Linked DNA regions of Homo sapiens. The protein of the gene in region 5 interacts with the protein of the main gene of each other region in a pairwise test. Each region holds a gene or a part of one and is shown on either strand. Other genes may lie near its edges. The genes, in order: SCPEP1, CLPX, SRBD1, SCG5, FBXL17, OLR1 and TGFBI.

Region 1 (3,807 bases), on a different chromosome or scaffold from region 5:
AGCCACCGTGCCTGGCTGTTTTTTTAAATCTCAGCCTTTGGCCAGGCTTGGTGACTCATGCCTGTAATCCCAGCACTTTGGGAGCCCAAGGCAGGTGGATTGCTAGAGCCTGGGAGTTCGAGACCAGCCTGGGCCACATAGTGAGACTCCAACTCTACGAAAAAATTTTAAAAATTAGCTGGATGTGATGGTGCTTGCCTGTGGTACTAGCTACTTGGGAGGCTGGGGCAGGAGGATCATTTGAGGCATGATTGTGCCACTGCACTCTAGCCTGGGTCACAGAGTCTCAATAAATAAATAAATAAAATCTCAGCCCTGCAACTACAAGAGGTGATATTTCTTTCAGACAGTCCTAGAAGCTGTTAGATCCCCTATGCAGATTTTTTTTTCTTTTTGAGATGGGGTCTCTGTCACCCAGGCTGGAGTGAGTGGCTTGATCATGGCTCACTGCAACATCAACCTCCCTGGCTCAAGTGATCCTCCTGCCTCAGCCTCCTGAGTAGCTGGGACTACAGGTGTGTGCCACCATGCTCGGCTAATGTTTTTATTTTTTTTGTAGAAATGGGGTCTCCCTATGTTGCCCAGGCTGTTGTTGAACTCCTGGGCTCAAGCATTCCTCCTGCCTCGACCTCCCAAAGTGCTGGGTTTATAGGTGTGAGCCACGGCATCAAACCTCCTTATGTAGATCTTGAGCTATGAATAAAAAGTTAAAAGTCCTGAGCTAATTATTTTGATTTTAAGGAAATGTGGCAATCCTCTGACTAAATAATTACACTTTTATGAATTTATTCTAAGAAAATAAGGAGGTACAAAAAAATCTAACTATCAGGGTGAATCAACAGAGCACTATGTATAATAGCAACAAACTAGAAATTATTATACTTGTCGGAAACAACTGGGAATTTTGTAAATAAACTAGAGTACAACCATAAAGTAGAATGCTCCACAGCCATTAAAAATGTTAGAGAAGAACATTTATTGACATGAAAAGGTGTTTCAGATATACTGATATGTCAAACAAATAGTAAAACAACATAGAGTAATGATTCATTTTGGTAAAAAATATATATGTATATATAGAAAAAAAAATTCTGCAAGGACATATGCTAAATTGGTAACAGTGCTTACCCCTGGGAAGGGGGTATACAGATGTTGATTTACTCTTTGGGTACCTGTATTTCCCAGTTTTTCTATAAATCACATCATTTGCTTCTGTCATAAGAAAAAATAATATCTATTATCATCCTTTATTTTGATCAAAACAAATCAATTTTTTAAAAAATCTTAGGTTTTTTTAAGAAGCAGAAATAATTTCCAAATTGCCTCCAGAGACAATGATTTTATCCTCTGCAGAAGCTGGTCAGAACCTTCTTGATCACAGCCCCAGTTAGATACAGGGAAGAATGGCGCTTCCTACAGCTTCAGCGGCCTCAGCTCAGCTCTGTGCCCCAAGGCCAAACCAGCTCATCTCCAGCCCCATCCATCCTATTCTTGCTGAGTCACCAGTCTCATCATCTTCAGAGCCATGTCCCCTTGGTCAGAAGGAACCTAGAAAAAAACAACATCTGAGTTAGTGCTCCTGGTGCTATTCCTGGGGCTGGGGTCAGAGGCAACATCCTGAAACCTTGCTCCCAAAAGGGAGCCAGCTCTGTGACAGCAACCTGTGCAGACACCTGGGCACATCCCTGAGAGAGGGTCCTTCCTGAAAATGACTCCTGCACTGGATGAAAGCTCTTCTGGGCCCTGACTGGGCTGGGTGGCAGGGACCTGGAGAAGTCAGCATTTAAGACAAGAACCTTCTACTCCATTTGGAGCTGATCTGTTGATTTCTTGGTAAGGGTCATGCTAATGATACTAGACCTAGCCTGTTCAAGGAAGAAGGAAGATTCTAAACATTTTAAAGGCATCTGTCTAGAAGGGATCCCGGATTGAGAATAGAGAAATGGCTGAGAAGGGAGCTCACAGCAGAGAGCCGCAAATAATAAAAACAAACAGGGCCCTTTGGGTGGCATCCGATTTTCGCAGTTATTCAACTTTCTTTTGTTTTCCCTCAGATTTTTAGAATAAGTCCTTTAAAATTTCCTTCCCACACAGCATCAAAAGGGGGAAGGGCAGAGGCCTCAGTTTCTCCCTACACAGAAGGGGTTGGAGTATATGGTCTCCCCGTTATGTAATTCCCTGGCTCCATGATTCTCTATGGCACACCCATCCTTGACTCTTCTGCCAAGAGTCCCCAGGAGGCACAGGCAAGGTGGGTTATCCTAAAATGTCATTTAATCAATGAAAGGGGAAGTGGTTTGGGGACGACTTAACAACAGTCTCCAAGGGCTATTTTAAGCCTGTCCCCAACTGATCTGTTGTTCTATATGTGACAAACCAACAGGAAATGGGCCTGAACTCTAGTATACAGAGCGCGTGGTTGGCTTGTTCCATGCCTTCCTACCAGCCTCGTCAGGGACTTCTCTCTAGGGCAGGCTGAGCATCCCTCATTGGAAAATCCAAAATGCTCCACAATTCCAGCCTTTTTGAGTGCCACCATGAGGCCACAAGTGGAACATTTCACACCTGCCCCATGGGCGGCTGCATTCAAAATGCAGGCGCACAACACACAGTTTATTTCTGCATCCCCAAGGGGGTTACAGTACAGTAACCTTTTAATCAAAACACAGCATTGTAGGTAGAGACCGAAAGCTGCTGTTGCTTGCTGTTGCTGTTGTCTAGCAGCTGACACAGGTATTCTGGTCATGCTACTGTGCTGCTCAGTTACTCTGAACACACAACTTTTCCACTGTATTAATGGTATGTTGTATTTCTTACTGTGAAGTACTTATGTGTGACTACATGCAAGAAAAAGATTGCTTATCGGCAGCATATAAATTTGGAGTCAGAAATGATATGATGCCTAACAACCACAGATTGGTTGAAGAGCCATGGGTGGCTGAAATAGCCACCCTTTGCTCTCTAATAACTCAGTGCACACAAACTTTGCTTCATGCACAAAATTATTTAAAATATTGTACGAAAGTACCTTCGGTCTATGTGTATAAGGTGTATATGAAACATAAATGAATTCCATTGCCTAGACTTGGGTCCCATCCCCAAGATATCTCATTATGGATATGCAAATATTCCAAAATAAAAAAAAAATTAAAAATCTGAAACATTTCTGGTTCCAAACATCTCAGATAAGGGGTACTCAACCTGTAACAGTGCTTGCTCTAAGACGTTCTAATTTTCTTTCTTTTAGTCAATATTGAAGGTACTCAGATCCTGAGAGCCATAAATAATGCCCTCTCCCTCTGTGCCCTGCTGCCTTGTTTGTTCTCCCTTTAGATTAAGTCTATTTGTTTATTTATTGATTTACTTTTTGAGACAGAGTCTCACTCTGTCACCCAAGCTTTCAGGCTCAATCAATCCTCCCACCTCACTCAGCCTCCAGAGCAGCTGAGACCACAGGCAGGCGCCACCGCGCCCAGTTGATTTTTGTTCTTTTTTGAGACAGAGTCTCACTCTGTTGCCCAGGCTGGAGTGCAGTGGCGCTATCTCGCCAGCTGGATGCAATGGCACTATCTTGGCTCACTGCAACCTCTGCCTCCCAGGTTCAAGCGATTCTCCTGCCTCAGCCTCCTGAGTAGCTGGGATTACAGGTGCCCACCATCATGCCCAGCTAATTTTTGTATTTTTAGTAAAGATAGGGTTTCTCCATGTTAGCCAAGCTGGTCTCATACTCCTGACCTCAGGTGATCCACCTGCCTTCGCCTCCCAAAATGCTGGGATTACAGGTGTCAGCCACCATACCCAGCCTAG
Region 2 (4,738 bases), on a different chromosome or scaffold from region 5:
CCATGTTGCTCAGGCTGGTTTTGAACTTCTGGGCTCAAGCACTCTGCCTACCTCAGCCTCTGAAAGTGCTGGGATTACAGGTGTGAGTCACTGTGCCCAGCCCTGATTTCTTCCTTCTCTGAGTGTCTGAATCATTAATAATTATCAGATGCTTCCCGGAATTGAGGGCTTACCTCCTTTGGTAAGTACTAAGGGAAATTACCTTAATATATGAATGACTGGCCTTCCCAGCCATGTGAGATATTCAATATGTATTTGAAGAAAGTAGTAATAAATACAGAATAAATAAGTCTTGGTTCTCCTATAGCCTAATGATCACATCCAGAAATTCACAAAATCTAATTTGAAATAAACACAAGTAAGCAAAATAAAGAAGCAAATGTTTTTCTTAAATTATCTCTTACACAACAGTGCAAAGTATTACCAGTCCTGAAGATTTTCTAGTATATAGTGAACATAAGAGAGAATCAGGTAAGCTCATACAATTTACATATAATTTATATAACATACAAAGTCACATACATTTATCTATTTCATATAATCCATATTTCTACACATTTAATACAATTTATATATATATATTTCTTTTTTTTGAGACAGGGTCTCTGTCACCCAGGATGGGGTACAGTGGCATGACCATGGCTCACTGCAGCCTCAACCTTCTTAAAAGAAGTAGCTAAGACCACAGGTATGCACCACCATACCTGGCTTTTTTTTTTTTTTTGGAAAGACAGGTGTCTCAACATGTTGCCCAGGCAGGTCTTGAACTCCTAGGCTCAAGGGATTCTCCCATCTCCTCCTTCCAAAGTGCTAGGATTATAGGCATAAGCCGTTTGCACCTGGCCTATATTTATACATTTTACATAATTTACATATTTTTATACACTTAGTAATTTACAGAAAATGTAGGGAAAAAAGAACAGTAGAAGATGTAATACTTACATACAAAGGTCTCTACATGTGTGCACAAGTCGCCACATTTAGGACAGCGCAGCTGGTTTCCACCTTTCCCAGAATTCCCAGAGCCTGATTTCTTACTACTTCCCTCACTTGCTGATTTCTAACGTTTATGAAGGAGAAAAAAGGAAGAGTGTCAATTATTAGTTTCAGGCAACCAACTTAAATGTAAACAATACTGTTTGTAATTAATTTTATAATCTTCTATATTTCTAGGATGAAATTATTAGTATATTTTATAATTCTATTACTGGTGTCAGAAGATCTATTTACTTCAAAAATCAAATCAGTTCTAGTAAATACATATATATCTGCAGTCCTCCTTTGTATAACATGTGCCAACATATATAATAAACAGCTTTCATTCAATGACTCAGGCACTAGAAAATTTACTAAGGGTAAAAAACTACATTTCAATGAAATTGAATCAGGAGTTATTATCATGGTAGGTAGTGACTCTGACTATTCTTAGATCTAACTTTTCTCATCTCTAAAATGGGAATAATTTTACTCACATCAGAGTCACTGTTAAGTATGGATATGTAAGTGTCTCACATTTTGTCTAACATATAAAATTAACTCAAGTGTTAGTCAAATTCACGTAATGAAAAAAACTGTTAAGTCACTGACTCAATACAACTACCAACATAAGTTATACTAGCTACAACATAAAGTTATACCAGAAATATGAAATTTTTAGGCTACCAGAGTAGCCCAACATTAAGTTATACCACAAATCTGAAATTTTTAGGTAGAGGATAAAGTGAGGTTTATACTGCCATGGGTTATAAGAGTTATATGAAAGCAGGAAATGATGGCTATTCCTAATTCAATCCTACTGACTGTCATTTAATGACACTTCTTTACTACTTTGGGGTGTAAGAAATTTTAATTACTGCTTACTATGTGCAATGCTTATAAAAGTATTTTAAGGTTCAAAATGAAACATCTAATTACATAAAATTATTCAGATCATTTTAGCTATCTCATATTTCCTACAGAAAACATATAAGCCAGTAAGAGACAGTACTGTTATATTTTTTTAAAGGAGGGAACTCACAATGTGTACAGATGCCAATAAGATAAAATAATTACCTTATTTCCATCTCCAGAACCATCTTTACTTATCCCATCTTTTGAGGCAAAGTATGCTGGTGTTTCTGTAAAGGATCTAAGAGGAGCTCTTTGCAGAATCTGAGTTTCAAATGTCCCAAGCCTTCCTAAAACTGACATATGAATGCGACCACCAGAAATACCTGAAAATAAAAGGAAATCTACATCAAATATAGACATGCCTCAATAAATCCCCTGGAAACAAAAATTCCTTGAGCATAAAGGAGGTTGAAAAAAAGCTATCATTTTCACAGTAGTATAAACTGAGAGAAAAAAAATGACACCAACGGAGGCAAAGTCCTTTCAAAAACAGGCCAGCAGGTCTGGGCCTCTGAAAGATTCTAAATAAATAAAGGTGTTTCTTTCTGTATGTGTCCTTTGGAAATAAGGCAAGATCACCCACGTCATAACTTTTTCAAAGTTTGAATGGACTTCAACATCTGCCTCACCTGTAAGATTTTGAAAAAGGCCATTTATGCCCTATATTCTTATTATTTCTACCAATGAGAATAAACATCTGACAGCAACTCATCTGTTATTATATAAGAATACTATCTGGGCCGGGTGTGGTGGCTCACCCCTGTAATCCTAGCATTTTGGGAGGCCTAGGCGGGTGGATCACTAGAGGTCAGGAGTTCAAAACCAGCCTGGCCAACATGGTGAAACCCCGTCTCTACTAAAAATAAAAAAAAATTGGCCACGCATGGTGGTGGGCGCCTTTAATCCCAGCTACTCGGGAGGCTGAGGCAGGAAAATCGCTTGAACCCGGGAGGCGAAGTTTGCAGCGAACTGAAGTCGTGCCACCGCACTCCAGCCTGGGTGACATAGCGAGACTCCATCTCAAAAAAAAAAAAAAAAATCTGTAACAATGGAAACAAACTTCAAATGTTCTTTAAGGTCAGGCGCGGTGGCTCATGCCTGTAATCCCAGGGTTCGAGACCAGCCTGGCCAACGTGGTGAAACCCTGTCTCTACTAAAAATACAAAAATTAGCTGGGTGTGCTAGCAGGCGTCTGTAATCCCAGCTACTCAGGAGGCTGAGGCAGGCGAATTGCTTGAACCCAGGAGGCAGAGGTTGCAGTGAGCCAAGATCATGCCACTGCACTCCAGCCTGGGCAACAGAGGGAGACTCTGTCTCAAAAAAAAAAAAAGTTCTTTAAAAAATTGTGTTATTCCACTTACACGTGGTACTTAGAAGGCAAAATCATAGAGTCAGTGAGTAGAATGGCGGTTCCTGGGGGTTGGGGAAAATGGAGAGTTATTGTTGTAATGGGTACAGAGCTTCAGTTTCACAAGATGATGGCAATGGTTGCACAGTATCAATGTACTTAATACTACCGAACTATACACTAAAAATAGTTAAGTCTTGTAAATTTTATATGTATCTTACCACAATAAAAAAATTGAAGGAGCCAGGTGTGATGGCTCACGCCTGTAATCCCAGCACTTTGGGAGGTTGAGGTGGGTGGATCACTTGAGGTTAGGAGTTTAAGACCAGCCTGGCCAACATGGTGAAACCCTGTCTCTACTAAAGATACAAAAAGTAGCCAGGCGTGGTGACAGGTGCCTGTAATCCCAGCTACTTGGGAAGCTGAGGCAGGGGAATCACTTGAACGAGGCAGAGGTTGCAGTGAGCCGAGATTGCGCCACTGTACTCCAGCCTGTGCAACGGAGCGAGGCTCTGTCGCAAAATAAATAAATAAATAAATAAATAAATAAATAAATAAATAAATAAAGATAGTATCAATCCCAAAAGTAGGCTTAGAAAAAGTAATTGAGGGGGCCAGGTGCAGTGACTCATGCCAGTAATCCCAGCACTTTGGGAGGCCCAGGGGGGCAGATCATAAGGTCAGGAGATCGAGACCATCCTGGCTAATACGGTGCAACCCCATCTCTACTAAAAATACAAAAAATTAGCTGGGCATGGTGACACGCGCCTGTAGTCTCAGCTACCCGGGATGCTGAGGCAGAAGAATCGCTTGAACCCAGGAAGCAGAGGTTGCAGTGAACCGAGATGGCACCACTGCACTCCAGCTTAAGCAACAGAGTCTCCGTCTCAAAAAAAAAAAAAAAGAAAGAAAGAAAGAAAAAGAAAAAGTAATTGAGGGAGAGTGACAGATGCAATCAATCAAAATGACCATTCACCAATCATAAAATCCTCATAAAAATGATAAAGCTCTGTAGCAAAGTAATTGGGATTTCTAACACTTTTTGTGCCATGAACCCCTTAAGCAGTCTGGTGAAGCCTCTGAATAGATCTTCTCAGAATAATATTTTTAAATGTATAAAATAAAATACATAACAAAGGAAACAAATTATAATGAAGTAGTTATCAAAAAATTTTTAAAATATGCCTCTTTATTAACAAGCAAAATTAAATAAGATCTAACAGCTTTTTAAATAATTACTATGATTTCAAAGTAGCAAAAAGTATGGACAATATTCTGAAATATCAGCAACTATAATGTGATATGAAAATATTTCTGATTTTGATTGATGACAAATCCACAGACACTTCTAAGACTACTGTGGATGTGTTGCCCACATTCATAGGCCAAGGAAACGTTGTGTTTCAGTTAGAGCTTAGTGAAAATAAAGTTCACAGAATCTCTGAATTCTATTCAAGGACCCTTTGGAGGCCTGTAAACCCCAGGTGAAGCTCTGAAAGC
Region 3 (4,738 bases), on a different chromosome or scaffold from region 5:
GTCCAGGAGTTTGAAACCAGCCTGGACAATACAGCGAAACTCTATCTCTACTAAAAATACAAAAAATTAGCCAGACCGTGGTGCTGCACACCTGTAACCCCAGCTACTTAGGAGGTTGACGCGCAAGAATCACTTGAACCCAGGAGGCAGAGGTTGCCGAGATCACACCACTGCACTCCAGTCTGGGTGACAGAGAGATCTTGTCTCAAAAACAAAACAAAACAAAACAAGACAAAAAAAAATAAGATGGATGGATAAGTAGATGGATATGTGGAAAAACAGATAGAATAAAATGTTAATGATAACATCTAGGTGTGGCTATATAGGAATTCACTGTAAAAATTTTTTTTCCAATTTTTCTGTATGGCTAAATTTTTTCATCATAAAACTGTTGGGGGAAACCAGGAACTAGTTGGATGTTCACAGAATATTATTTTTTACTTCTTTTTTCTAAGTTTTCTATAATATACTATAGTCTTTTTAAATATTTTTAAAAGAAAGCAAATTAATGACATTTACTAAAATAATCAAATATAAGTGATTTTAAAACAAAAATCTCATTTTAGATTCAATAAAAGTTAAAATATTCACTATATTTGTTACACTGTCATACAATTCAGTAAGAATCTTTAAAAAATGTCGTTATGTAGCAAGTCACTGTTTTTGAACTAATTAAAAAAATTTAAAGCTAATTAAATATGCTGTTAAAAAGATTTTTCTTTTTATACCGTAAACTTCCCTTCTACTCAAAAACTTCCCCCATGTCATTCTGTTAATGTATACTCACTAAAAGTACATCATTTCTTAGATTTTAAGATTTTAATAACCAATAAAGATAATATTAAGAAAGCTGAGTTGGTTGTTTACTTTCAAAAGGGTTTTATCTTTAGAAAAGCACAAGTTTTATGCCAGGTGCTAGTCAATTGTGTCTTGTTAATTTCCAAAACAAACAGAGGGGAGTGCCATGCAATTTCCATTACACACACTTCACCATTAGTATCAGGGTTTATTAGCTTGACAATGCTCCAGGAGTAATGGTTTCATTCCTCAGTGAAATGAAATAATGTGCCACATAACTCAGCAATGCAGAACTTCTGAAAAATGTTGTCACATTAAACGGTCATATTTTTCAGTTTCCATTATGCCAAAACAAAGGCCATTTGCTGTAAAGAACTCACTCTGCATATGGAGAATTCCCACATGGGCCTCAGACTTACCTCATTGCTATGTCATATGATTCTGGATGAATACAAGTTTGGTCCAAAGGATTTGGCTTCAGTAAAACATTCACTGCAGTTTTGCTCTTCTTTTTGCCCTGCTTCTCATTTGTGACCTCAACGTCTGCTGAAGATGTCACAGCAACTCCTTGAATTTGGCCTGAAGTTTCAGTTTGCTGACTATATAAAACCAGAAAAAACCACATTTATGAAAAGGGGAAGGTTGGGCAGAAAAGTCTTCAAATTAAAATGTGCTTACTTCTCTGTCATACAAATATGCGAAAACAGCAACCAGATTTTGACCTTTTACTTCATAGAAACTACCACTTATTTGTTTAAATCACTGGGAAAAGGGCTTTCTGTTACTTAAAGCCAAAAACATTCTTAACTGATTGTATAATTGCCATTCTAAGAGAGAAAAGAGGAAAATGTAGGGAAACAAAATAATAATATTTCCCAGAGCTAAGAAAAACAAGCTCTCAAAAGAATCTATTGAGTGTAGAACAGGATGAATAGAAAAAGACTCATACTTGGCTTCGCGCAGTGGCTCACACCTGTAATCCCAACACTTTGGGAGGCCGAGGCAGGCAGATCACCTGAGGTCAGGAGTTCGAGACCAGCCTGGCCAACATGATGAAACCCTGTCTGTACCAAAAATAAAAAAATTAGCTGGGTGTGGTGGTGCATGCCTGCCTGTAGTCCCAGCTACTTGGGAGGCTGAGGCAGGAGAATCACTTAAACCTGGCAGGCGGCGGTTGCAGTGAGCTGAGATCCTGCCACTGCACTCCAGTTTGGGCAACAGAGGGAGAGACTGTCTCAAAAAAAAAGAAAGAAAAGAAAAGCAAAAGACTCATACTTGACATATCATGGATAAACTTTACAATATAAATAATCTTTAAAATTCTAAAAGGCTTTCAAGAGAGAAAATTAAAACATTACTTTAAAAGGATCTGGAATCAGACTAGCATCAGATTTCTCACTGGCAAACATCAGATGTCAGAACATAGTGGAACAATATCTTAAAGTTTCTGAGAGAAAATGATTTTGAATTTAGAATCGCATACCTAGTCAAATTAGCATTCAAGTAGGAGGGCAAATTGAAATCATTTGCAGGTATGTAAGGACTTAAGTATAACCCATACCAAGCTCTAAAAGAATTTCTTAAGGATTAATTCTAGCAAAAACCAATAAATCAAAGAAAAATGATGATATGAACTACAAGAAACAGTGCAGAAACCACAAAAACTGATTAAATTAAATAAGTGCTCATGAATGATGTAAATATATATACATTATGTGTATATACACATATATACATATACACTATATAGTATATATGTAGTATGTATAGTGTGTATATAGTGTGTGTGTACAGTGTGTATATAGTGTGTGTGTACACACATAGTGTGTATATAGTGTGTGTACACACATAGTGTCTGTAGTGTGTGTACACACATAGTGTGTATATAGTGTGTGTGTACACATAGTGTGTATAGTGTGTGTACACACATAGTGTGTATATAGTGTGTATATAGTATGCACATACACACATAGTGTATATAGTATGTATATACACACACACATAGTGTGTATATAGTATGTATATACACACACACAGTGTGTATATAGTATGTACACACACACAGTGTGTATATAGTATGTACACACACACATAGTGTGTATATAGTATGTACACACACATATAGTGTGTATATAGTATGTACACACACATATAGTGTGTATATAGTATGTACACACAATATAGTGTGTATATAGTATGTACACACACATATAGTGTGTATATAGTATGTACACACACAGTGTTATATAGTATGTACATACACACACATATAGTGTGTATATAGTATGTATATACACACATATAGTGTGTATATAGTATGTATATACACACATATAGTGTGTATATAGTATGTATATACACACATATAGTGTGTATATAGTATGTATATACACACATATAGTGTGTATATAGTATGTATATACACACATATAGTGTGTATATAGTATGTATATACACACATATAGTGTGTATATAGTATGTATATACACACATATAGTGTGTATATAGTATGTATATACACACATATAGTGTGTATATAGTATGTATATACACACATATAGTGTGTATATAGTATGTATATACACACATATAGTGTGTATATAGTATGTATATACACACATATAGTGTGTATATAGTATGTATATACACACATATAGTGTGTATATAGTATGTATATACACACATATAGTGTGTATATAGTATGTATATACACACATATAGTGTGTATATGTGTATATACACACATTTAAAAAACAAAAATATACATCTATAAGAATATATTTTATATATATGGAGGAGTGTGTATATATAGTGTGTATGTGTATATGTATATACACACGTATATACACATGCATATAGTCTGTATACGTATATATAGGTTAAAAAACAAAAATATACATAAAATATTTTTATATATGTATAAAATATATAGAGAGAGTGAGAGAAAAGGAGGGGAGGGGAGGGGAGGGGAGGGGAGGGGAGGGGAGGGGACGGGAGAGGAGAGGAGAGGAGAGGAGAGGAGAGGAGAGGAGAGGAGAGGAGACGAGAGGAGACGAGAGGAGAGGAGAGGAGAGGAGAGGAGAGGAGAGGAGAGGAGAGGAGAGGAGAGGAGAGGAGAGGAGAGGAGTCTGAAACTAAAATCCCAGATCATCTTATCATGGGAGGCAGAGAGAGTTGAAGAGAGAAAGATTGGGAAGGATCCTGTTTCTAGTCTTCTCTAAGAGGACAGACACCTATTAACTCCAGAGGTCAGTCCAAAACCAATTTAAGGATGATCATAAGAATAGAAGATGTACAACTTTGAAATCACTAAGGAGAGATAAAGATGAGATGGGAAAACAAGGAGAGAAACAGAAAACTTATTAACTGATAAATCTAATAAATAGCGTAAAAGGAAAAGAAGAATCAGAAAGCATGATGGAGGGGCAAAATACGTAGGAAGAATAAGCCCAAACATATAAATAAATACAACAAATATGAATGTATTAATAACAGATTGAGTAAAACCACAAAATCTAGCTATGTGTTTCTAAGAGCCATATCAAAAATTAAATGTCATAGAAAGTATAAAAATTAAAAAAAACAGGCATATACAGTAACATTGCTAGCAAATAAATTTCAAAGCAAAAAACATTAAATGTGGTAGCAATATTCCATTCTGAATAAACCTATAGTTCATGAGATGTAACAGTCACAAATCTTCAAGTACCTAATTATCAGCTGGAAAAGTACAAGGCTTTAAAATAAGCTTCATCAATAAGACACTGATTAGACTAAATTACAGCCCATCCATACAATTAAATTTTATGCAGACAATATAAAGAATAAAAAATTAGAAATCTATATGTAATAATTTGGAAAGAGATCCAGAAGACTGAAACAAATAAAGCAAGTTTCAAATAGTTGCAGAGCCTGATCCCTTGTGTATACATTTTTAAAA
Region 4 (4,738 bases), on a different chromosome or scaffold from region 5:
CCCACCTGCAATTTACAATGCATATCTCTTGCCCAACCTCAACTATGCAAGGAGGCGGTGCCAGAGTGAAGGAGCCTCTACTACCAAAAACACCAGTACTGGCTACAGCCTCTATCTCCTGCTCACTTGGGGAATAAATCAATTTAATATCGGAAGGGAGAAAAGGCAGACTTGCAGATCATTTCCTTGAGGAATGAGGATATTGCTGTGAGGCTCATTCTCTACAGTCTGTGGTTGCCTTTCTGTGAACGTAAAAACTCCTGAGGCAGAGAATATCCGAAGAGCTGGTGTTAGAGCTGGGAAGGCCGGGAAGGGGTGAGGACATGTCTTCTTCATGTGTACCATTGTTTTCAGCTGCCTGAGCTGGATGGAGTGTGGAAGAACCTGAGAGCTACTACCATGGGGTGGGACTGTCAGCCAGCTCTGGCAGAGTTCCACTGTGCCATCAGCCAGGTAAAGCCAGCATCATTTAATTCTTTAGGAGATCTTGGGGGCAGATCCTACCCATAAGAGTCTTCATTCAAAAAGAAATGTGCCCCAGCACTTTGGGAGGCCGAGGTGGGAGGATCACGAGGTCAGGAGATCGAGACCATCCCGGCTAACACGGTGAAACCCCGTCTCTACTAAAACTACAAAAAATTAGCCGGGCGTGGTGGCGGGCGCCTGTAGTCCCAGCTACTCAGGAGGCTGAGGCAGGAGAATGGCATGAACCCAGGAGGCAGAGCTTGCAGTGAGCTGAGATTGCGCCACTGCACTCCAGCCTGGGGGACAGAGCGAGACTCCGTCTCAAAAAAAAAAAAAAAAAAGAAATGCAAAAGGCCTGGCTAATCTTCCTCTCAAAGATGGTCCCTGTGTCTCCTTAAGAGCTAGGGTTAGGATTAGCAGGATAATGCTTCCCTACCCCTGCATGAAAGTGTCTGGGACATTCTTAATTAGCCCTATTATTGTATGGACTTGAAGGCATTGGCAGGTATGGTATGGGTAAGAGAAGCATACAAATTGAATGAAAAGAAATCAGCTATCTCTCCTCACGCCCATTCCTTGTTGATTCCTTGGGGAGTGGTGAGCCTGTTTTCCATGTGAGTAGCAGGTTCAAGTTCATTAAAAGGGCTTTCCATAGTGCCATCAAGATTTTGGACAACTGTCCAGATCCTGGTTTCAAATTACACTCCTAAATACAGCCAGGGAGCTTCCTGGAGAAAAGTCTAATTCCAGGGCTAGGAAGGAAAGTGCAAGGATGGGTGAAGATGGAATAGCTAATTAGGTCAGAAAATAAAGAAGTGCTCAAAAAAATGATGAGGTCCTGTCAAAAGGAAAGAAAAGAAAGCTTGAGGAGACTCGCACTGGCCAAATTTAGGACAGTTTGAACACCAGAATACATAATAATATGCATTATGGAATCCATGAATCCATACTTATACTATATAAATAAACACATTTATAAATAAATAAATAAATAGAACAGCAGGGGAAACTCTTGCTTAGAATAGAATGTCAACTAGTAAATGCAGAAAGAATAGCGGAGTAAGAAAATCATCATTTTGCAGCTATCATCATTATTGAATCTGGTAAGCATCATCAATGGATGTTATATTTGTTGGTTAAAAGTTGAACGAGGAGCAGAATATTTACACAGCCCCAAAACTTCTTCCCACAGAGTAACTATTAATTTCTTTTTTTTTTTTTTTTGAGACGGAGTCTTGCTCTTTTGCCCAGGCCGGACTGCAGTGGCACTATCTCGGCTCGCTGCAAGCTCCGCCTCCTGGGTTCACGCCATTCTCCTGCCTCAGCCTCCCAAGTAGCTGGGACTACAGGCACCCGCCACCGCGCCCGGCTAATTTTTTTGTATTTTTAGTAGAGACGGGGTTTCACTGTGTTAGCCAGGATGGTCTCGATCTCCTGACCTCATGATCCGCCTGCCTCGGCCTCCCAAAGTGCTGGGATTACAGGTGTGAGCCACTGTGCCCGGCCTATTAATTTCTAAGGGAATTTTACACCAGAGAAACCTGGAGGGCAGCACCTTAACAAAGTGAACACTGCCAGTCATGAGACAAACTTCCCTGACATCATGTGCTTGCTGATGTAAAATACTAAGTAGGACATAAAATACTAAGCAGGTCTAATCACATGGAAACCTGAGTCAAATCCACATTGAAGAGCATTCAACTCATCAAACATGTTAAGGTCAGGAATGACAAAGCAAGTCAGGGAGGGGTCTGGTCCCTCATATCCCCGTGGCTCAGGCTCTGGCTGTGATCAGCTACTGATGAAAAGGTGTGAAAGCATTTGGAAAGGAAAAATATTTGCTTTTTGAGACAACTTTTTCTTAAGTAAATAACACTCAGCAGTTAATGTGTAAAGGGGGAGTGGGTAGCTGGCATGTACAGGAGCCAGCCATTGGTGTGGTCACCACTGGTGTAGTCACACACATTGTCTGGAAGGCAGCCAGCCCTCGGTAGGACTCAATAGGACTACCACACAGGACAGGTTAGGAGCAATGAGCCATGAAAAGATAGGGAATGTATTCAGCTTGTAAAGTACTCTGGAGTCAGATGATGGGGTTCAAATCCCAGCTCTGTGGGCTGAGCAGGCTCCTCAGCTCCCCAAGCCTGCATTTTCTCATCTGGAAAGTGAGAATGACAAGGATGGGCAGATTGAATAAGATTACTGAGTATTTAGAAAGGAGTCTGGCATATAGTATGTGGTCAATAAATATTACTATTTACTATTGTATTATATAGTATTATGTATTATGTAATACAATTACTATTATCATTCATCTTTGTATTCCCATTACCTAACACGGGGCCCGGAAGGCATATGATGTGTCGTTAATAAATGTGTCTTGATGCACTAACGAAGAGAGAAATGCAGGAAACAAGACAGACACTGAAATGTGTAATATGTGAATCACTGTTAAAGATGCAGCTCAGCTCCAGCTACTGTCAAAAACAAGGAAGCGTTATTAGCAGATAAGGAAGCAGGGTCTTTGTGCTGTTCTATCATGAAAGATGATGACTCTGTTAACTTAAAGGATGGCTGGGCTGAAGACAAGCTTGAGACTGTCATTCCATATAAGCACTGAGGAAGGTTTGTGGTTCCCAGTTTAGAAAAGCAAGACATACTCAATTCCCACTTCCATGTGAAAACCAAGGAAACAATGTTTTACTGGTAGGTAGTAATGAGAAAATAAACAAGGAGACCTAAGTTTAAGTAAACACATAATTGCAGATGATAAAAGGTATCTAAACATTGTTCCTGGTCATTGATCTCTAATATTTTCCTTTTACATTTGATCCTAGATTCTAGTCTTTAGCTCTAATGTGGACAAAGAATAGGAAACACTGAGAGAAACTCAAGTCAGTGTTTCGAGAAGGAAGCACAGAGAATGAAGGACCGTGGTTGGCCTCATACTGGGGCACTGGAAGTGAGTGGAATTTGATGAGAGAAATCTGTGAAGATTTTCAAGAAGAGATGAAGAGAGCTGAAAAGAGATGTTTTCATCCCTCCCACCTCATCATGCCACCAACTGGGCTCCTTGCCTTCACTCACACCTTGACTCAGTCTCCCTCCTTTCTTTCTCTCATTCCTAGCCTACTGGTGAAGCTGAAGACTTTCCCACCTGAAACTTCAGTGCTGCCCTCCTTAGTGCCTTTGACTTCCTCTGTGGCTACTACCCCAATCAGCCACACCAGTCCTCAGTTCTGGATCTTCCTCTACCCTTGTCTTCCATCTTCCCTAATAATTGCCCCTGGCCCTCAGAATACAGACGAAACATGAAGTGGAGCGGTGCTAAGTTGGGTTCATTTCATTTTCATGCAATTCATCTCAACCGTGGGACTATAAGCTCTCTGAAGACCAGCACCATGTCCTGATGACTCCTGCATACTGAGCATCTAGCACAGTGCCTGGAACACAGCAGGCTCAATGTGTTCTCTTTGTGCCTTATCGAACCTGGCTTTTGCTTCTGTTTGGCAATGCTTCGATCACCTCTTGTGGATCTCTTCCCAGTACTCCTCCGCAATCTACTCTTTCCCTCACTCTCTCTTCTCTTTTTTATGTCCTTCCTCCCTCTATTCCTCTCTTTTCTTTCTTTCTAAAATGCATTCAAAGAAAAAGTTCATATTGTCCATTTCATATGAACCTGACATATCTCTTCTTTCTTCTTCATGTTATATTTATTCCGTATACCAATTCTAGTTAGTTTTTCCCCCTTTAAAATGTCTTGGATTCTCACCCTTCTTCACGGTGTTCACAGTCATCATAACTGAAATGACTCCCCATATTTTCTTCCTGTCTAGGGTTAGTCTCTTCTCCTTTTACTTCATCCTTTAATATGCCATCAAAATAACTTCTTTTATAGAAGGCTTTTATTATTTCAGTCTCCTATTCGAGAACCTATAGATGTTTTTCTATTTAATTCAACATGTTTAAGCTCTACTACTAGGCTTGAAAGTGGCTCCACAAACCAATTCTTCCAAACAGAACTGTTTATGAAAAAGAAGGAAATGGAATAATGCAAATTGGAAGAAGCAAAATTAACTTAGGAATGTTGTTGCTTTGTTGTTTTAAGACAGGAAATGTGTGTATGTTGAAGACAGAGGGAACTGACAATGCATGTTAAAGCAAGACGCTGAAAAAAATAAAAGTGGTCATTAATGAAGATTTCTCTAAAACAATGTAGGAGGAAAGGAGGGAGTTTAGTTTTGAAATTTCAGTGTTCCCAGTAAAGCAGTAA
Region 5 (3,802 bases):
AGCGCTCCTGCCTCGCCTAGTCCACTGGGATCATTCAGCAGAGCAGAGGAGAATTGTACATTTGGGGAGCTGATCTCTCGGAAGGGTTTTAACTGTCACCTGTCTGTGTGTGTTCAAGTATGTGTATTTGTGTCTTGTTTGCATACTGCATACCAAAAGTGCAGTTGTCATTTGTTCCCAAGTGAGCTGGCTTTTTTTCTTAGAAATTAAAGATTATGAAAGCCACAAACTTTTTAGTTTTTAACTTCAAAGGCTTCTTTCTCTTTAAAAAAAAATTATTTTTAATATAGAGTCAAAAAATTGGATGTATTATTTTGAGCTTCTAATTGCTGCCACTTGGAGATGTCCAAGTAAGAAGGCCTTCTTTTTACATGGGATGAATTGTGCACTTCTACTGATGATGACTACAGCAGAAGTGATGTTATACGTACAGGCACTTACACTCTCTCACATATTCACACGTGTGCACATCTACACCAGGGCTCTGATCTACTCTAGATCGTTTCCTGACAGAGAAGCCTTCTTCCAGGCCACTAAGGTAGCATGTTATCCACTGTGGCACTGCCTAACTCCGTGTATCCTCGGGTGGCCAACTTGCTATCTGGTGGGTGACTTGGGGACTAGAAAGAATAAAGCCTTTTCTAAATTTGTTATATAGAGGCAACAGTCTGAACTCTCCTGGCCAGCTCACGAAAGTTAATTATACATTATTCTACAAATGCATTCTGTTGAGCACTAAATATTTTAGTTGGTTTTATGTTAACATTGTGTTAGCTTTTATTTCCTGGATAGTAACTGGTCAGGATATATTTTAATGATATTTGAAACTAATCTTAGCATTGAAGCCACCAATGTAATTAATGGTGTGCAGTTATTTTAAAAACTACAGATCATTTCATTATTTTCTTAATTTTGGTAATTATTAAAGTCTATTTCTGAGATACGAGAGGGTAGTCACATTAATAGAAGATTCATGAGTGAGATATAAGTAGACAATCTTTCTACTGTTGTTGCTCTTTTTGCTTTGCTTTGGGTTCTTGAACAGGTTTTTTGGATATATGCATGTTGTCATTTTGGACTAGTTCTCATGCTACTGCAAAGATCTATTGCTAGCTAATATATGAGTTAAGAAAGAAAATTAGAAAATCTGTTCATTGAAATTCTGTTTACACTTGTCAGAAATAAGCATTTCTTTGTTTAATTAAGGATTGCCAGCTTCAGTTAAGACAAGACCTATCAGTAAATGAATATATGTTTTGATTTAACACATCTTTACAATTAATTCATAATAGGGACTCAGGCTCAAATAACTGTTCCTGTGTCTAGATTTATAATGAGGACATCAGGGAGCCTTTTTAAGCTAAAGAGTGATTATCTTTCACAGTAGAACTAGAAACAAAACCCTAACTTGTGAAGTTGCTATTTATTTTTCCCTGAGTGAATATAACTGTTATTTGGTCTTTAACAGATATACTGAGGTTTGAGTTTCACTTTCTTTAAGTCTCACATTGCTAACATGACATTAGCTGTAAGAAACAAGATAGCTTTACATTTGAATGCCATTTACTGATTTCTAATGATTCTCTTTTTTTGTAAACAACTGTTTCCTTTGATTATGTCAACATGTTTCTGATGTGGCATTTTTGTTTTAATCCCAATCGGTTAGGAAAATCTAGTCAGTAAGCGCCATGAGTATTCTTCCCATAACTAAATGGGTTTCTAATTTAATTTGAAGGGAATAAAATTTGTGTAAGAAAAAAGCTGTTTAACATTAATAAACTATATTTCTTCTTACACATTGAACTGTATCATTTTCATATCCACTTCCCCACCACTGAAATATCTTATTTCACAATATTTTAACTGATTTTTAATCCAAAACTAATTTATAAGACAGTATGTATAGTAATAGTAGCTTGAGTGAATATGCAAAAGTTTAATTTTTATATATGTCATACTATATTTTAAATAGTTAAAAAAGACAAAAGAAGGGAGAGCCATCTATGATATAGATGGTACCATTTCAGTTCAAAGTTGTAATAACCTTTGGAGTGTTACAGTTTGGTTGTCAAATGGTTTCAGAATGTATAATTGATTTTTTTAAATGTTGCATTGTTTGAATCTAAAGTACAGCACTATAACATGCTTTAGCTTGGGGGGGTGGGGGTGGGGTGGGGACTTGCACTTATTCTCTAAAATGTTGACTAATCCAGAAAGCCTGATGCAACATAATCTGGAAAACTGCTTTGGTACATTTGTAGAAATCCGTAGAAATACCATATCCAGCCTCAAAGCATTAATCTCAAAAAAAAAAAAAAAAAAAAAAAAAAACAGCCAGAAAAAAGCATCACCTTGAGTGGTCCTGTGATGGTTGTTGAATGTGTTCTCATTAGATGCTTTGAAATGAGGCTTAAAATAATTTTTCTGGGCAATATAGAGTTTCTTTTTTTTGCTTAGAATGTCATAAATACATGTGAACACGTTTAATGCAGGGCTTTTTATTCTCTCCAAAATGTCAACAGTATTTTCAGAATAAAGACTATGAAATATATTGCTGTAGTGGAAAATTCTGGTCCTTTGTCTTTAATGTCTTTTTGAGTGGATAAAGAAAATTCACCCGGTTTGTAGTTTCTATATTTCCGTGAATCTTTGACCTTGCAGTGGGTTGCAATAAAAGAGAAACAAAACACTGTGTCTTTTGTTTTATTTTAGAGACAATAAATGACCTCCCCAATGCTGGTTGGGTATGATGCATGCAGTGGTCTGTGTATTTCTGTGTTTCACTACAGACTTATGTAGGTTTGACTAACCCAGAATAATAAACGAGACTGAGTTTAGGAGGTTCTAATTGGGCTGGTGATTATAGAGATAAGATTAAAATCTCAAGGATTTACATAAGTGTGTATTAGTCCATTCTCATGCTGCTAAAAGGGTATACCTGAGACTGGGTAATTTATAAAGGAAAGAGGTTTAATCGACTCACAGAAAACTTAAAATCGTGGCAGAAGGGAAAGCAAACAAGTCCTTTTTCACAAGGTGGCAGGAGAGTGAAGAATGAGAACCAAGCAAAGGGAGAAGCCCCTTGTAAAACCATCAGATATCATGAGAACTTCCTCACTATCACAAGAATGGCATGGGGGAAACCACCCCCATGATTCCATTGCCTCCCACTGGGTCCCTCCCACGACACGTGGGGATTATGGGAACTGCAGTTGAAGATGAGATTTGGATGAGGACACAGCCAAACCGTATCAAATGAGTTGTTAAAATCCCATTTCCTAAATAGTCATCATTTATATAGCCATATATTCTATTTTTCCAAAGTAAATAAATTCATAAAACATTTATTGAGTGACAAATACGTATAGGCACTGGAAATTTAAAGATAAATGAACTCACTCCCACTCTCAAGTTACTCACAGCCTAACAAGGGGACATTGTGGGGCACTAGCAATAACAGTGGAGTACAATAGATATAATGATGGGCATAATTATGGGGAGCGCATCTAGGGCCGAGCAGCAGCTTTGGGAAGGGAGAGCTCCACAGAGGAGGAGGATTTTCATGAAGGCTAGAGAAGTAGCGGGAATTTACCAGCTTTGCTTGGGGGAAGGAATGGAAGGCAACCTGGAAAATAGAAAAGTATGTGCGAAGGCATGAGGGAATGAGATAGCATGGAAAGAGCAGGGCCCTTGAGGTAACTGAGTTTAATAGGAAGGTATGTTATATAGAGGCAGCAGGTGGGAAAGGTTCCAGGAAGAAAACAAGGGCAAATCATAAACATTTTATGGCCTACTAAAGAGA
Region 6 (5,427 bases), on a different chromosome or scaffold from region 5:
TATTAGTAACTTTAAGTTATTATCTTCTCCATCATTCTAGAATTTAAATAGGCTCTATCCATGAGGTTGGTTTTTTGTTTGTTTGTTTTGTTTGAAATGGAGTCTCGCTCTGTTGCCCAGGCTGGAGTGCAATGGTGCAGTCTCAGCTCACTGCAAATTCCACCTCCCCGGTTCAAGCTATTCTCCTACCTCAGCCTCCTGAGTAGCTGGGATTACAAGCATGTGCCACCACACCCGGCTACTTTTTGTATTTTTAGTAGAGATGGGGTTTCACCATGTTGGCCAGGCTGGTCTTGAACTCCTGACCTCAGGTGGTCCACCCACCTTGGCCTCCCAAAGTGCTGGGATTACAGGTGTGAGCCACCGCACCCGGCCTATCCATGAAGTTATGAAAACAAAAGAAACAAAACAAAACAAAACAAACAAACAAAAAAATGCCTACCAATTGTAATTTTTATTTCATGGCTCTATCCATTGGAAGATGAACAATATACCCCTTTATTTTCATGGTCACTCTTAAAAACATTTTGCCTAAAATGAATCTATATCAAGGCTGTTTGTAGTTGTTATGAAAGAAACTTATAAACCATATTTATTAACCTCATTTCCAACACCCCTGCCCCAATAAACATCAGTTCCGTATTTTAGCACTTACATTGCATGCCCAGCACCATAATGGTCACTACTAATCCCAGGCAAAGGACCCCTAGAGTCGCAGCAGCCAGGCACCACCATGGAGAGTAAAGAAACTGAAGACCTAGAGTGACAGAGGATAGAATCAGAAAGACAAAAAAGAGTGAACAAGTAAGCAAACCATTCCTTGGAGCCTGTCTGTACTTGGTGATTTACTCTGTTTATGTTTTAGTAAATAGACATAAATAGTTTGCATTCCATACCACTAGTCCTCCAAATGGCTCTGCAAATAATTCATCATACACATTTAGGAATGGAAAACAGGGAGAGTTAAGGAATTTAAGTAATTTACCCATGGTCACACAGCCAGTAAATTCAGAGCCAGGATTCGATACCAGATATTTGAATCTAAATATATGATTCTAAAGCTTATACTTTATCTACTTTCCCGACAATTACTCCTCAAGAAACTCACAGTCTAGCTTGGTTGGATCAAATTCATCCACAGTGCAGAGAGCCTGAAGTTTTTAATATACACCACGTGTACACATGTGCACACAAAAGTAACATAAATATCAGACATCAAGCAAACAAGCTTTCTTCAGTTAATCAACTGAGATTACCTCAAATAACTTTATGAATAATTTTATGCTATTCAATTATGAGTCCACCAAAATTACAACCTGGAACTGGGGTTATTAATCAAAGAAAAGTAGGGATGAAACCTTGATATTAATTTAGCTTATATTAACAGCATATCCTACACTCACGCCAAGTGTAGGCTTGATTTTACAAGAGAAATATTCACCATTTTGAAAAAAAAATCACATAGCTCACAGGTGTATGAATATACAATTATGTGTTCCACCACTAAAAAAAAAAAAATCACAGATATTACTGGTTGTGTAGGAAAACATCCCATACAATGTATTTGGTTTCCTCACCTTGTGAGATAAACAAATAAGGTACTCCTATCATTATCCTCTGTATGCAAATAAGGAGACTGAAAGGTTTAGTGACTTGCTTAAGATCACACAGATGCTAAAACCCAAAAATAAGTCTTTAGTCTAATTGTCAGTAGCTACATGACTTGAAATATTATAATACAATTTCCAGTGTGAATGTATAATGATCCAGTCAAGCAGTGGTCAGATATATTCAAAGTTTTCATATGTCAAAGGTAGTGTGTTAGACTCCACAAATGATAAAAAGAAGATAGAAACTTGACAGGGATAAATATGGTTCATCTTCTGATTCAATACTTACTGGCTTCTAGAGTGTGTGTGGCAAGCTAGCAGAGAAGTTGTAGAAGATAGCTGTGTCTCTTGCAAATAATTGCCTAATTCTAGCCTCAGGGGCAAATACCTCTATGTAAATCTTTCAACTCTGTGGTCACTGTTCATTCCACATTGTAGGGCATCAGATACCCTCATCGTGCTCTTTTTTTTTTTTTTTTTTTTGAGGGGGAGCTTGCTCTTCGCCCAGGCTGGAGTGCCATGGCGCCATCTCAGGTCACTGCAACCTCCGCCTCCTGGGTTCGAGTGATTCTCCTGCCTCAGCCTCCTGAGCAGCTGGGATTGCAGCCGCGCACCACCACAGCAGGTTAAATTTTGTATTTTTAGTACAGATGAGGTTTCACCGTGCTGGTCTCGAACTCCTGACCTCATGATCCGCCCACCTCAGCCTCCCAAAGTGCTGGGATTACAGGCGTGAGCCACCGCGCCTGGCCTCATCACTCTTAAATAATGAAAAACTAAATTTTTAGAGGAAAAAGAAAATCACAGGACCCTGTGAAGGAAGGTATGTGTTCCCTTTTTCTATAGATTCTCTTTGTCCTGTGTCCTTGGTAGGCAGAGACCATTAATCCAACTGCTGCCCCTACTAGTGATTTTCCAATCATAAACCAATCCGATTCTTTGCAGTAGGTACCGATCTAACCAAGATTCTGAAAGAAAAATCAATCTCATGATTATTGTAAAATTCAGACCCTCAATATTTACTACACAAATAATGAATGAGTAAAGAAACGAATGACTATTGTTCACTTCTGGTTTTACCTATAAATATCAGCAGTTTTTATAGCAATTTAGTTCATTGGCTCAAATGTTAAATCACTCCATGCTCACACTTATGTTCTCTATTGAGAGAAATTTCTGTTTTGTTTTTGGAAATGTAATTTGGAATTTCTTTATCCAAATTTCTGACAATACTTGTCTCTCTTTCTCTCCTTATATTCTGTTCATTTTCCTCAGAACAGATATAGAATAAAAGGCAATTTACCCAGATTGTCTGTGGAATTGGGATTATGAATTAATTTATAGCTATGCAATTTAATTACTGTATGGGTCAAACAGAACTTACAATTTTTCAAAGCAGTAGTACACAACAAAATGTAACTTATGCTAAACTATACTGAATATCATTTACTTTGCCTGCATAATTCATGAGGTACTTCAGGTTTTTGTAGTGCCTGAAGGACTCTTACAGAAATTATCGTTATATACACCAGATAAATTTGGTTCCCGAGCCCTCCGATGTATAGAATTCTGGATAAATGGGAGTTTGTGGTACAGTCCTAGCTCTACCACTTATTAGCTCCGTGAAACTGGATGATGTTGTTAGTCCTCCTGATGCCCAGTTAGCTCTCTGTAAAAGGGAGATAGTAATAGTACCAATCTCAAAATGTTATTGCGAAGATTCTGAGAAATAATACTCTGAAAGTGAATAACATATAGAATAACCTGTAGTAAATACTCAGTATAAATTGTTATAAATAAGTTGTCATCATCATCATCATTATAGCCTTCTTGTTTTTCTTTTAAGTAAATGGTATTAATTCTATTTTCCCATACTTGGGTGTTTAGCTTTCTAATCCCATTCTTCGGTGAATTTACATTTTGGGGCTAACACTGGGATTCTTTCCCTGTACACATTTTCCCATCCCTAGTACCTTTAGCTTTTTTTCCATTTGACTTCTCATCAGGCTGGTCCTTCACAGTCTGGATCTTTAGGTCATCAAAAGTCATTTCCAAATTCAAGCTAAGAATGAGAGAGTGAAGCAGTCACGAACTTCAACAAACTAAAAATATGTGAGCTTCTGCAGAAGTATTTAAATAGCTACTGTTATCTAATAGAAGAATGACTCAATCATTGGTAGGAGGAAGGAGAGGCTTTGCTTCATATTGGGAAGTTCGCTGACGCAAATTCTTGAGTTATGTGTATTGCAGGTGGAGAAAGTGGTGATTCTGAAGGTGTTTCAGGATATTTCGCTAAGTAATTTATGAAAGGGAAAACTATTTTTCATGAGCATCAGAGGAGAGATATTGTACCCACTCTTCAGAGACAGAAACTGAAATTCAAAGAGAGTAAGTCACACTACATTTGTAAAAAATGTGCCAGAATTATGGGCCAAAATATTTGATTCCAATGTTTGTTTGCTAATTTCATTAGCAGACTGTTTCTATATGGTGTCTTTTACGAATCAGATATATTCTCTTTTGATTTTCACTGTTTTATCTGGCAATGGATCTAAGAATTTTGGGGTGAATCACATATGGCTCCCATTTCCAGCGATGGTGTGTCCTGGGTGATTTTAGAATTTATCTGGGGCTACTAGTTCATGCAGTGCCAGTGTAACGTAGCAGCAGAGAGCACTTTGAATGCAGAAAGAGCTAGTTTCAGTACTTTCCTTTAGTCTACAATCTTGGGAAATCTTAATACTTTGAATCTATGTCTTTGTCTGGAAATTAGGGATAATGTCTACCTGATAACATTGTTATAGGAATTCAAATGACATGTCTGGAAATTAGGGATAATGTCTACCTGATAACATTGTTATAGGAATTCAAATGACATGCTGGGTAAAAATAATAAGCTTTTTTACACTAGGTTTGTGAAAAATGTCACGTTGCTATAGGAATTCAAATGACACGCTGGTTAAAAATGACAAGCTTTGTACTTGGAGCATAATAAGAAGCCAATAAATAATAATTATTAGTATAGTACTAATATTCAGCACAGTTGAATTACCCATCAAATAATGTATTTCAGTAAAATCCATGATTGACTCATGTCACAAAGACGCTTACATGAGAGACCCATAAGTATGTCTATATGTATTTACTGATAGAATACTTTTCTATTTTCCCTTGACAACCTCCTAACCAGATATATATCTATTAGAGATGTCTTCTGAAGGAAGTATTTATAAGCAAAATGATATGATATCTGGCATTTACTTTAAATTACTCCAGGAAAAAAAAGTGCAAAGAAAAGAATACACAAAGGAAGAATGGAAAAATAAATACATAAATAAAACATATAGGAAACTATTAGGAAAAATTACCAATATTGACAGCCTAATTAGGATTCCATTTCCCTCCTCCTCCCTGTTTCCTATATTCCTTTTATTATGTGCAGAGTATTTGAGAACAAATTGAAAAAGTTGGCCAGGTGCAGTGGCTCATGCCTGTAATCTCAGCACTTTGGGAAGCTGAGGGGGGGGGTGGATCACTGAGGTCAGGAGTTCGAGACCAGCCTGGCCAACCTGTTGAAACCCTGTCACCACTAAAAATACAAAAGTTAGCTGGGCCTGGTTGCAAGCCTATAATCCCAGCTATTTGGGAGGTGGAAAATGAAAATGCTTTTCATTTTCAGTGAGCTGAGATTGTGCCACTGTACTCCAGCCTGGGCAACAGAGCGAGACTCCCTTTAAAAAAAAAAAAAAAAAAGAATTAAAAAATACTGAAACGATATCACACTGAAAAGGGCACATTATCATTTCTACAGTGACTC
Region 7 (4,738 bases), about 28 Mb from region 5:
CCTCCCTGGTTCCTGCTCTCATCCTCCCATTCCCCCAGGCCTAGGGGTAGTAAAGGCTTCCCAGGGTTGCTAGTCCCTGGTTGGCCTCATCCTTTGCTAGTTCCTTTAGTCCCGCCCACTCTTTCACTAATAGTCTTGTCATAAAATCCCTTCAAGTCAATCCTTGATGTGCCAACTGTTTGCTGCTGGGGCCCTGAGGGATCACTACTTTAGAAAAATGGAGACGTGTACTTAAGTTGGTCTTTACCCAAGAGTCTGCTCCGTTCTCTTGGTGGCAGGGCTCGGAAGGCTTCATTTGTGGGAGCAAAGACTGTGTAGACTCCTTCCCGGTTGAGGGTCTCCGTCAGTCCTGCAGACTGGATGGCAGCTACCAGCATGCTGTAGATACACACACAGAAAATGTCACCTGTCAACAGGTATTTTCCTTAAATACCTCACCACGCTGAGAGGTATTTTCCTTAAATACCTCACCACTGAGGATAGTAGAGTCCAGGCCACTGGAATGCACACACCTTGGTTTTCATGCCCTCCGTATGCACAAAGAGGGAGTGATTCCAGGCTCCAGCTCTCTCCACCCAGCAAAAATGCTAAGCTCTGTTAAATGGCCAGACGTCAGAGGCCACAGGAGAAAGGAGGGAAAAGAAAGGGCAGAGGTATGGCTGACCCAGAGACTAGCTGAGCCTCCAGGGATATGATTCTGGGAGGGCAGAGGGGTGTGGTCTCCAAGCCCTTGTGCAGGTGGCTGAAGTCAGTGACAGGGAAACATTCAATATGACAGCACCCCAAGGTGAATGAGCAAGTCAGAAATGGAGATAGCCGGGCAAGAAAACAAACTCACAAGGGTGCTTCAGTTGCAATAAACAGATACTGCGCAGAGAGTGAGAGGCTCATCGTGCACTGTAAACTATGTGCTCTTGGCTCACTTGGAGCTTTACAATGAGAGGGTGATGTTTTCCTTGCACTTCAGTCATAAAAATGTAGTCCCCCCTCCCTGCTTCCCATGCATGTGAAGATTACACTCTTAGAAGTAACCCTTCTTCCCAATGTAAGCTTTCAAGGCGACCCTTGCCTTTTCCCCATCCCAAGTCTGGAAGGTCGCAGCAGTGCACTGCTAGTGTTAATTGAATCCCCAAGGTAGAAGAAAGCTTGACAAATAGCTGGGGCCCCACATCCCACTCCAGCATGACCACTGGGCAGAAGCTCCACCCGGGGATGGAACTAATTACCTAAAGCGATTGTCTCCCTTCAGGACATCCATGACAGTCCCCATTGGGGGGGTCAGCACCCGGTCCATCGTGAACAGGGTCCCGTACCTCCCCCTCTTGTCGTGGGCCGCGATGCAGCTGTTCTCAATGCAGAGGCTCTGCACAGAAGAGGGACAGAGAAAGAAAGGACTGGTTATACTTCCACGAGGGGCCTCCTGATTTGTTCAGAGCATGTAGCAGGGTCATTATCCATGAAGATGAAGGAGTATACACTGGGATGGGTTATTAAGGCTGGGATAAAATGATGTATTTTCTCCAGGAAATAAAACAATAAATGGTCTTCCTTAAGGAAAGAACGGTTAGAGAGGCCCCAATAAAGTCACACAGAGGTCCCATAATGAGAATATCAGTTACACATGAGGTCCATTGACAATGTTGAAATAAATACGTTGAACCCATTTATTTATTTCTTTGTTTAACAGATGATAACCATCTTTAGCCAAATGGTGCTGGTTGGTCCCAGGCAAGAGCTATGTTGAGTTGTACTTCCTTTTTGATTTCCAGGGTAACTGTTGGGTTTGAAAACAAAGAAGATACAGCAGAAGAGAGAAGGCACCTTTTGGACCAAGGAGGGCTGTATTTTAGTTTAGGGGGCTTCTCTTCTCATAAGCTCAGAAAGAGTCTGAACTCCATCCCTCCTCCCAGGTGTTAATTCCTGAATTCAAGAAGGACTTATTCCTTCACAATACAGGTTGGATAATTGTGTGGTTTATTCTCAAAGGCCTCCAGAAAAAGAGATTCCAATCCTTCTGCAGGATCTCATTTTGTTATCTATATTTTCCAGAAATTATTTCCTTCCTTGTCAGCAACCAGTTCTCATGCAAACTCCTGCTTATTGAGGACATTTTTTTTTACACTAATACAAGTCCCACAGTAAGGAGCTTCCCAGGAGCATGATTTAGGACCCAGAACTTACATTACGATAAACAAAAACTCTCAGTTTTTTGCCGCCCAGAGTTTCCAGGGTCTGTCCATGGTACAGATACTTAGAGGCCAGCTGGTCTTTAATTATGTGGTTCCGAAGCAAATTCCTTGTATGGGCATCAATTGGAGGGGTTCCATCTACAAGAAAGGGTGATGGTTAGGTCCAGAGAGATGTGCTCCTGCAATGAAGAGAGTGATGAGAGATAAATACAGTGAAAAAGCCCATCCCTCCTTGAGTTTGGAAACAGGGATTGAGAAACCAAGTGAAGCTGCCAATATTCCTTAACATCTGGTATCTTCTATGGAGAATTAAAGAAGATCCAGATAATCAAGGGTGTTTGGAGTTTTGCCCTAAGAGGGAAGGGCAGGCACGCACACAACTTGGCCCCCTTCTCTGCCTTCCTGGGGCTGCAGCTCAGCTGTACCCTCACTCTGACCTCTTGACTATACATTGGCAAGTGACCCTGCAAATAGAAAGGCAAGGGAATGCTCTGCTCTCCCAGATGTCAAGTCTTGAGTTCTGAGGAACGGCTGCCTCCCAGATGTCAAGTCTTGAGTTCTGAGGAACGGCTCCCCAAAGGCATTCTCTGCACTGCCTAATGAAACAACAGAGCCTCTGAAGTTTCTGCTGAAGTCACATCTGCTTTTGGTTGAGCTGAGTGGAAGTTCTAATGTCCCATGGGGTGCTGTAAATCGGAGAGTGTTGTGGAGGTGACAGGGGTGGGGAAGCTGCCTCCAGGGACAATCTAACAGGGATGCCTTCCCCATGTTACCTTTGAATACAGAATTCAGGGGAGCCAGGAGGGTCAACCGCTCACTTCCAGAGAGATGATTGCCGAGGCCGGCTTGTCTGAAAAGGTCAATGGCTGTGGACACATCAGACTCTGCAGCCAATTCAAATAGTGTCTTGGCTACAAGGAAGGAGAAAGTGGGTTCAAAAGTTAAAAGCGCTGTTTTCATTTATCATTCATCCACCCCAGGGCATGACACACATCAGCAGGAATGTCATCTCGTGAGTCAACAACCCCTCTAAACACTGCTGGGGCCCAGCGGGCTTGTGTCATCAGGGGAACAGTCACCTAGAAAATCTAACCAGTCAGGAGGAGAGGGAGGAGAGGTGAGCTCAGTTAGGCAGAGATCAGCCTCTGTCCCAGGCCCTGTGGGCTGCTTGGTCAGGGCACATTCTAACAATGGGAAGAAAGACAGTCTGTGTGATGGCTTCTGTGGTGTAGATAAGGCCAGCAACCACACCCATAGAAGCATTTTGTTTTTTCCTGTGAGATTCCTTCACTCATGGACAGATCTCACTGGAAGACTAGAATGGGGCTAGGATTCCTAATGAGACACAAGCCAAAGTCCATTCAGTCATTCTAACTGGGTCAGTGACCATGGGACAGCTTGGGCACTACTGAGAAAGCACATGCTCTGAGGTCAGCAAGTGGCCCTCTTTGCCCATGCACAGCAGGCAGATCTTCTGAAAGGCCTCTGTGATTGAGTCTGTCCCCAGACCCCTTCAATAGCTCCCCACTGCCTCTCCACTGCACTTGCAAGCCTGAAGCTCAAGACACATCAGTCTGGTCACAACCCACACATTTGCAGTGGCCGAGAAGCTGTGAGCTGGGTCCAGGCAGGGAAGTCGCCCAAAGATCTCTGAATTTCCCCTCCCCCGCCACAAAGGATGGCAGAAGAGATGGTGGGCCAGGCAGGGCCAAGGCCCCCGGAGGCCTGGCCTACCTGAGTCTGGGATGAGTAGCTCATCAATGTAGTGGATCACCCCGTTGGTGGCTAGGATGTCTTTATTGGAGATGATCGCCTTCCCGTTGATAGTGAGCATGTCCCCGCTGCAGCCCACCTCCAGTGTCGTGCCCTCCAGGGTCTCTACAGACAGCCCCGCAACGATGGCTTCAGCACACATAGCTGACTTCAAGATGTGGTTGTTCAGCAGGTCTGGGGTCCAAACAGACTCAGGTCAAGTCAGGGTCCACTCCACGATAACCTCAGGGACCACTTGCAGCCTGCCCATGCTGTGAGGATCCTGTTCTCTCAGATGAGGACCCTCAGATGAGGCTGGGGCACCACAGGGCCCAGATCCTCCTCGCCTTCTGCCTGCTGCCCTAGAAAACCAGCTGGGGCCCTGTGGCCACTTTCCAGCTGTGGGACCCTGGGAGAGTCATTTAGCCTCTTTGAACCTCAACTTCCTTATCAGTCAAGTGGACATAAGAATTGCATTCATCTCCTAGGGCTGCTGTGGGGATGACATGAAATTCTGAACCTAAAGCACTCGGCACGGGGCCTGACAACAGAGTAAATGCTCAACAAATGTTAGTGATTAGCTTATTTGTAGCTGAACTTCAGGGATACAAGAAAAACTCAAGAGAGCCTACCACGGGATTTTAGAAATCTACTCACCTTTATAAAAATGTAAACTGTAGTAGGAAAAGACGAAAAGTGTACAAATGACAGCTTTGAGTTATTTGTGTACACTTTATTTGTCCAGTTTTCTGTTCATTTAGCCCAAGGGTCTACTAGCTGCCAGGATATATCTTAAG

Evidence for each region.
Region 1: the proteins of FBXL17 (region 5) and SCPEP1 interact in a two-hybrid assay, tested with the Homo sapiens proteins (one large-scale study listed by BioGRID).
Region 2: the proteins of FBXL17 (region 5) and CLPX interact in a two-hybrid assay, tested with the Homo sapiens proteins (one large-scale study listed by BioGRID).
Region 3: the proteins of FBXL17 (region 5) and SRBD1 interact in a two-hybrid assay, tested with the Homo sapiens proteins (one large-scale study listed by BioGRID).
Region 4: the proteins of FBXL17 (region 5) and SCG5 interact in a two-hybrid assay, tested with the Homo sapiens proteins (one large-scale study listed by BioGRID).
Region 6: the proteins of FBXL17 (region 5) and OLR1 interact in a two-hybrid assay, tested with the Homo sapiens proteins (one large-scale study listed by BioGRID).
Region 7: the proteins of FBXL17 (region 5) and TGFBI interact in a two-hybrid assay, tested with the Homo sapiens proteins (one large-scale study listed by BioGRID).

What each region holds. Positions count from the first base shown.
Region 1 is NC_000017.11:57,003,914-57,007,720, reverse strand, and holds the end of SCPEP1 (retinoid-inducible serine carboxypeptidase precursor), read right to left. Parts: intron 1,549-3,807; coding exon 1,486-1,548; 3' UTR 953-1,485; downstream 1-952. UniProt on the Homo sapiens protein: May be involved in vascular wall and kidney homeostasis.
Region 2 is NC_000015.10:65,177,992-65,182,729, forward strand, and holds part of CLPX (ATP-dependent clpX-like chaperone, mitochondrial precursor), read right to left. Parts: intron 2,214-4,738; coding exon 2,053-2,213; intron 1,061-2,052; coding exon 943-1,060; intron 1-942. UniProt on the Homo sapiens protein: ATP-dependent chaperone that functions as an unfoldase.
Region 3 is NC_000002.12:45,411,897-45,416,634, forward strand, and holds part of SRBD1 (S1 RNA-binding domain-containing protein 1), read right to left. Parts: intron 1,398-4,738; coding exon 1,218-1,397; intron 1-1,217.
Region 4 is NC_000015.10:32,685,910-32,690,647, reverse strand, and holds part of SCG5 (neuroendocrine protein 7B2 isoform 1 precursor), read right to left. Parts: intron 3,787-4,738; exon of another isoform or gene 3,303-3,786; intron 454-3,302; exon of another isoform or gene 385-453; intron 1-384. UniProt on the Homo sapiens protein: Acts as a molecular chaperone for PCSK2/PC2, preventing its premature activation in the regulated secretory pathway.
Region 5 is NC_000005.10:107,857,920-107,861,721, reverse strand, and holds the end of FBXL17 (F-box/LRR-repeat protein 17), read left to right. Parts: coding exon 1-2; 3' UTR 3-2,687; downstream 2,688-3,802. UniProt on the Homo sapiens protein: Substrate-recognition component of the SCF(FBXL17) E3 ubiquitin ligase complex, a key component of a quality control pathway required to ensure functional dimerization of BTB domain-containing proteins (dimerization quality control, DQC).
Region 6 is NC_000012.12:10,168,419-10,173,845, forward strand, and holds the start of OLR1 (oxidized low-density lipoprotein receptor 1), read right to left. Parts: upstream 3,715-5,427; 5' UTR 3,660-3,714; coding exon 3,584-3,659; intron 2,579-3,583; exon of another isoform or gene 1,900-2,578; intron 758-1,899; coding exon 656-757; intron 1-655. UniProt on the Homo sapiens protein: Receptor that mediates the recognition, internalization and degradation of oxidatively modified low density lipoprotein (oxLDL) by vascular endothelial cells.
Region 7 is NC_000005.10:136,052,305-136,057,042, reverse strand, and holds part of TGFBI (transforming growth factor-beta-induced protein ig-h3 precursor), read right to left. Parts: intron 4,137-4,738; coding exon 3,924-4,136; intron 3,101-3,923; coding exon 2,963-3,100; intron 2,328-2,962; coding exon 2,182-2,327; intron 1,364-2,181; coding exon 1,227-1,363; intron 379-1,226; coding exon 248-378; intron 1-247.